Homo sapiens: one gene and its partner. Each later gene encodes a partner of the first gene's protein in a complex. Each region holds a gene or a part of one and is shown on either strand. Other genes may lie near its edges. A codon is read from its position in the direction of its gene.

The links.
Region 2: the proteins of XCR1 (region 1) and GNAI1 are in contact, whole or in part, in a cryo-EM structure (PDB 9AST), measured with the Homo sapiens proteins. Residues at the interface, in NP_001019815.1 of Homo sapiens: Glu63 (codon at 1,102), Thr66 (codon at 1,093), Arg127 (codon at 910), Ser130 (codon at 901), Val131 (codon at 898), Pro134 (codon at 889), Leu135 (codon at 886), Leu138 (codon at 877), Val140 (codon at 871), Arg146 (codon at 853), Tyr205 (codon at 676), Leu212 (codon at 655), Ser215 (codon at 646), Ser217 (codon at 640), Lys218 (codon at 637), Arg219 (codon at 634), Arg222 (codon at 625), Thr223 (codon at 622), Leu226 (codon at 613), Ile227 (codon at 610), Val290 (codon at 421), Gly291 (codon at 418), Val292 (codon at 415), Lys293 (codon at 412), Phe294 (codon at 409); in NP_002060.4 of Homo sapiens: Glu28, Ala31, Arg32, Leu194, Asp315, Phe336, Thr340, Asp341, Ile343, Ile344, Lys345, Asn347, Leu348, Lys349, Asp350, Cys351, Gly352, Leu353, Phe354.

The regions. Positions count from the first base shown.
Region 1 is NC_000003.12:46,020,660-46,024,483, forward strand, and holds part of XCR1 (chemokine XC receptor 1), read right to left. Parts: intron 1,619-3,824; exon of another isoform or gene 1,497-1,618; intron 1,320-1,496; 5' UTR 1,289-1,319; coding exon 287-1,288; 3' UTR 1-286. UniProt on the Homo sapiens protein: Receptor for chemokines SCYC1 and SCYC2. Subsequently transduces a signal by increasing the intracellular calcium ions level. Receptor for XCL1/Lymphotactin.
Region 2 is NC_000007.14:80,223,992-80,226,741, forward strand, and holds the end of GNAI1 (guanine nucleotide-binding protein G(i) subunit alpha-1), read left to right. Parts: 3' UTR 1-2,190; downstream 2,191-2,750. UniProt on the Homo sapiens protein: Guanine nucleotide-binding proteins (G proteins) function as transducers downstream of G protein-coupled receptors (GPCRs) in numerous signaling cascades.

The DNA of each region.
Region 1 (3,824 bases):
GATTAGAAACACATGTCTAAATGAAGGAGCGTGCAAGATGAACTCAGAGTTCAAGAAATGTTTTTTTGGATGGCAGTATAAAATTCCCAGGTAGGAAGCCACTTTCCCGCAGATGAGAGGCTGGCGGGACCCACTGGTGTAATGAATGACCTTCACTGCACGCCTGCAGCGGAGGAGACGTCTCCACCCTGCTGTGTTCTGCAATGCTCCTTCCAGGCCCGCTTCTCCATGACCCCCATTCCAGTCCCTGTCCACCTGCACCTGCGCCTGCACCGCCACAGGCCCCTCAGTAGAAGGAGGCGCCCTCATAGGCGAAGGCACCAGGGGAGTGGGGGATCGAGGCTGGGCTGGGTGCCTGCAGCCGGCAGAACCAGAACTGCCGGAGAACATGTTTCAGGTGTGTGCGGAACTTGACCCCCACGAAGACATAGAGCACCGGGTTAAAGCAGCAGTGGGAGAAGGCGAGGTTGCGGCAGATGAGCAGGGCGTATTCTAGCTGCTGTTTGGCCTCGCAGCTCCGGATGATCTGGGTCCGAAACAGCGTCTGCAGAAACAGGGTGAAGTTGTAGGGACCCCAGCTGAGGAAGTAGGCCACCACGATGGCGAAGATGAGCTTGACCGTGCGGTGGCGCCGCTTGGAGCGTGAGCGGAACAGGGTCCTGAGGATCTCCACGTAGCAGAACAGGATAATCCCCAGGGACAGCAGGAAGAAGAGGTTGTGCTGGTAGACGGAGGTGAGGTACCACGTGAGTTCGGAATAATCACAGCCCGAAGAAAGCACCTTGTGGAAGATGGTGTCGAGGATGGAGGACAGGATGCTGGCTACCCACACAGCCATGGTCACCAGCACCCGGCAGCGGAGGGTGGGGACGCGCAGGGTGGAGAGGGGGCTCACTACCGACAGGTAGCGGTGGATGGTCATGATGGTCAGGAAGAAGATGCTGCTGTAGAGGCTGATGGAGAAGATCATATTGAGGAGTTTGCAGAGGAAGTCTCCCAGCACCCAGCCCCAGTGGTATGGGGAGATCCACACAGGCAACAAGCAGGCGAACACCAGGTCTGAGAGGCACAGGTTGAGGATGAAGATGTTGGTGAGGGACTCCAGGCTCTCATACTTCACCAGGACCCACAGGACCAGGCTGTTGCCCACTAGGCTGAGGAGAAACACCAGGCAGTATAGGACAGTGGTGGCGAGGGTAGCAAAGACCCAGGCCTGGTTCTCACACGGCTGGCTCTGAAGGTCATAGTAAAAAAAGGTGGTGCTCTCTGGGTTGCCTGAGGACTCCATCTGGACCAGATGGCAGGGACGTTTAGAGCATCTGAAATGATAGAGACATGGAGTTTAAAGCCATGTGGTGGCTGGGTACAGTGGCTAACACCTGTAATCCTAGCACTTTGGAAAGGCCAAAGGGAGAGGATTGCTTGACCCCAGGAGTTTGAGACCATCCCAGGCAATATAGTGACACCCCTGTCTCTACAAAAAATTTAAAAATTACCCGGGTGTGGTGGCGCATGCCTATAGTCCCAGCTACTCAGGAAACCGGGGGGTGGGGAAAGATTGCTTGAGCCCAGGAGGGCGAGACTGCAGAGAGCTGTGATCATGCCACTGCACTCCAACCTAGGTGACAGAGAAAAACCATGTTTCAAAAACAAACAAAAAACCCAAAAAAGATGCCAGACTCTTAGTTAATTCTCTCCTGGATCAGAGAAAAGACCTGGAATGGGAAGGGGATTCTCTACAGAGTGTATTTTCCCCACAAGAGATAGCTTTCCAAGACCATTTCAAAATATTCCTATCTGTCATGTTGGTATCTTATTGCTACAAAGAGTCTATTCTATCAGGCTTAAGGGCTGCTTTAATGTTAATACTGGTCAGCTGTGCTGAATTACAAAAGGAGGAGAGTATAATGAGGCATGTCTGACTACCTATTCCCATCATGGCCTGAACTAATATTTCTTTAGAATGCCCTTCCTTGGCTGAGGAGTCCGTTCAGTTAGTTGTGAGGCTTAGAATTATATTTTTTATTTATAAAACTTAAATGCTTGTTAAGACAAACACCAAATAACCAATCAACACTTTTCAGAAAAATGAAACAAAATCCAGAGTCTACACAACATAACAATGTTTAGGACACAATCCAAAATTACTCAGCATATAAAGAAATAGGAAAACATGACCCATACTCAAAAGAAAAGACAATCAAGCAGCTGCCTGTGAGAGGGGCCACATGTTGGAATTTGTAAATATGTATCAAAATGTAACTAACTATTATACCTGTTCCCAAGGAAATAAAGGAAACTATATTCATAATGAATGGAGAGATAGAAAGTCTCAGCAGAGAAAGAAAAGTTATATAAAAGACCCAAAAGGAATTACAAATCAATAACAAGATATCAAGAAAAGCTTCAATAATTTGGAAATAATTTTAAAAACACCAGCGCGTGTGACGTCATGGCGCCGTGCGGGGTCGCGGCGGCGGCGCAGGGGGCGGGCCCGTGGCGCGGGGCCTGAGGAGGAAGTGGAGAGATTGTTGCTCCCTCTGCGCCCAGAGAGGACGCGGCTGCGTCGCGCTCCCCTGCGATCCCCTCCATGTTCCCTGGCCCCACCGCTCCCCTTCCTAAGGCTGCTGCTGTCTATGGAAGTAATGGAAGGACCCCTCAACCTGGCTCATCAGCAGAGCAGACGAGCCGACCGTTTATTAGCTGCAGGCAAATACGAAGAGGCGATTTCTTGTCACAAAAAGGCTGCGGCATATCTTTCTGAAGCCATGAAGCTGACACAATCTGAGCAGGCTCGTCTTTCACTGGAATTGCAAAGGGATAGCCACATGAAACAGCTCCTCCTCATCCAAGAGAGATGGAAAAGGGCCCAGCGTGAGGAAAGATTGAAAGCCTAGCAGAACACAGACAAGGATGTAGCTGCCCATCTTCAGGCATCTCACAAACTCTCTGCCGAGGATGCGGAGGGCCAGAGCCCCCTTTCTCAGAAGTACAGCCCTTCTTCAGAGAAACGCCTGCTTGAGATTCAGGGGATCTTTGACAGGGATCCAGACACACTACTATATTTACTTCAGCAAAAGAGTGAGACAGCAGAGCCATGTATTGGAAGCAAAGCCCCAGAAGATGATAAAACAATTATAGAGGAATAGGCAACCAAAATTGCAGATTTGAAGAGACGTGTGGAATTCCTTGTGGCTGAGAATGAAAGATTAAGGAAAGAAAATAACTAAAGGCTGAAAAGGCCAGACTTCTAAAAAGGTCCAGTAGAAAAGGAGCTGGATGTAGATGCTGATTTTGTAGAAACGTCAGAATTACGGAGCTTGCCGCCACATTCAGAAACTGCTACAGCCTCCTCAACCTGGCAGAAGTTTGCAGCAAATGCCGGGAAAGCCAAGGACATTCCAATCCCCAGTCTTCCTCCCTTGGATTTTACATCTCCAGAACTTCCCCTTATGGATCTCCCTGAGAATATTCTGAAAGGATTTATGAATAATTAAAATGGAAGGCCACAGAAGAGGGGAGAAGAGGAAATAATACAGTAATAGTTAATCCAGCAAAAAAAAAAAAAAAAATGAAAAGGGAAAACCACGTAGAAGGGGCATCCTGGTCCCGGAAATGTTTCATCATCTGGTGGACTGTGGGAGAATAGGCATTGCCAGGACTTGGGAAACAGTCACTGTGAAATGCGTTGCATATCTCATTCACTGACTTGAGCTAATGATTCCAACTTGATAAACACTAAACTCATGGAGGTTCAGTTTCTGCTGATACAAACCAAATGGCTACTTGGAATAATTTTTTTCAAGCAACAGTTATTTTTCTTA
Region 2 (2,750 bases), on another chromosome or scaffold:
CCCTTTCTTCTTTCTGAGAGCCCCACCTCTGATCCTCCTACACTTAAGGCTTCTAGATGCAGATTTATACAATAGTGCTAAATCAAGACCTTGAAAAATGTACTCATATAGTAAGATTTACTCAAAACCACGAACTCCTCCATTATTTAAAATATGTTAGAGATACATAAATATATAGAGAAAATGCATACATACATAATTTATTGAGTGCCTACTGTGTGCTAGGTACTTTTCTGGGTACCTTACTAATGCTCTCATTTAGTCATCAGAGCAGTCCTGCAATATTGGTAAAATTTCCATTTTCTATATAAGGAAACACATTTAAGAGAGGTTAGTATTTTGTGCAATGTTGGCTATCTAGGAAGTGGCAGAGCTGGGTGTAAAATCTAGAGTTAAGACCTTTGTTAGCCATATCTTCAAAATCCAGTGTCATTTCTTAGCCATATCTTCAAAATCCAGTGTCATTTCTTAGCCATATCTTCAAAATCCAGTGTCATTTCTTAGCCATATCTTCAAAATCCAATGGCATAAAGAAGTTTTTCACAAGGGTGCCACATGGTGTAGTGCAGCATGTCCAACAGCATTGCCTGAACAGATGTTAATAAGTATGCATGATGCACATTAGCATGTCAATGGCTGTGAAAAGCCAGTGCAGTAAAGAAGTAAAGAGCTCTCTGTGTGTTAACCCTCCATTTCACAAACATAGGAACTGCACAGACACAGCAGCCACTACCCAGGTGTGAATGCAGAGCACTTAAAACGTAGCTAGTCCAAAGTGAGTTGGCCTATTAGTGTAAAATACAAGAGTTCAGATACACAGAATTTAAAAATTACATGTTGAACTGATTTGTGATATATTGGGTTATATAATTTTAAAATTCTACTTTTTTTTACATTTTTAATGTGGTTTTGGAAAATAGGTACTCATGTGTCTTTGCATTATATTTGTATTTGGGAAATGAAATGCTTTATTTTTCTTCCACAACAACTCTATTTGCATTGCATGGAAATGTTCCCAAGTTTTAGAGAAACACATACAAAAACTAAAAAGGATAGAATGCTAAAATTTGAATGTGGAAGATGTGGGTCTTGGTGTCTTGAATAAATCACACCTTCAGTGACTTTCTTGGGAAATGGTGGGCCTCAGTAAAGACTTGGACTATTCCAGTTTTAAATGCTATCGTTTGGTTTGGTGTAATATAGCCTTTCCTGTGGGGGGAAAACCCATCTCATTTTCACTTTAAATATGTCAGCTATAATAAAAGAGAGACATACACATTTTAAGATCTATACTCTAAAACAGGGTTTTGAAATTAGCAGCTCTCTTTATTTTTAGTTCCAATACATGGAGGGGGAGTTGACCCTTCAAGATACTGGAAAATTATTAAATCCAGTTTACAGACTCATCTCTTTAGTCTGCAGCCAAATCAAAAGATTAGTGGGGTTTTTTTTAATGTTGTTATTGTGTTGTGTTTTGTTTTTTTAATATGTTTCAATTCCCCTAGCCAAATTCCTTTCTTTCTCCACACCTCCCACAGGACTGGGCTGAGCACAGTCATGCATTAAAAAAGCTTCTGAACTTATTTTGGAAAGAGTAGCTCCCTGGAGTGTGGAGGAGGACAGGAATTTGCTATCTGCAGGACTTAAATCAGGATAGAGTATCAAATATTCCAAGGCCTTACATGCATGTTTTGTTTTTTGATAAAGACAGAAGATTGCAAATGGTTTGCTCTTTAACAGTCAATAAAATCATATCTACTAATCAATACATTTGAAGTTTACTAGATTCTCAAACTTTCCATAAGATTTGAGTTCATTAGTTTAATGGGATCGATCTGAGAAAAATTAGATTTATGTGCAGATTTTAGCTACCCTTGTCCTTGGAATGTGTATGCACACACACACACATCTGTGAGAATGATTATTTTCTACTTGATACAGTGTGCATCAAATAAAAGTTTACTATATTGGAATATGGGAATAAATTCATTTATAATTAGTTGAAATTGTCCAGACACATATTTTAGAAAAGTATGTTATTTTTGTTTTAAGTTTGGAAGAACCTGAATGATTAAACCTGATTTAAGTCCCTCTAACAATTATGAAGAAAAAAAAAGACTAGATTTTATATCAACTTAATTGTCTTTTGGTTTAAAATTATGTATCCAATAAAGACATTTAAAAAGTAAATTTATGTCCATATTATTTTTAATAATCCAGCCTTTGAAAAAAATCATTGGCCGGGCACGGTGGCTCAAGCCTGTAATCCCAGCACTTTGGGAGGCCGAGGCAGGCGGATCACGAGGTCAGGAGATCGAGACCATCCTGGCTAACACAGTGAAACCCCATCTCTACTAAAAATACAAAAAAAAATTAGCTGGGCATAGTGATGGGCGCCTGTAGTCCCAGCTACTCGGGAGGCTGAGGCAGGAGAATGGAGTGAACCCAGGAAGCTGAGTTTGCAGTAAGCCAAGATTGTACCACTGCACTCCAGCCTGGACGACAGAGCAAGACTCCATCTCAAAAAAAAAAAAAAATCATTTTTTAATCACATCATGTTCCTATTTATACACATCATTAAGGTAATTCTATTTTTATCTCTTGTATTAAGTTGGTTGAATGCACTTTATTTAAATACATTATGGTTCACATGGAAAGCAGAGCTTTACATGGAAGAAAAGCAGCATCAATCCTACCTAATTTCTTGGGATCCAAGTTTTTTTTAGGACTGTGATTTTTCTTGGCATTAA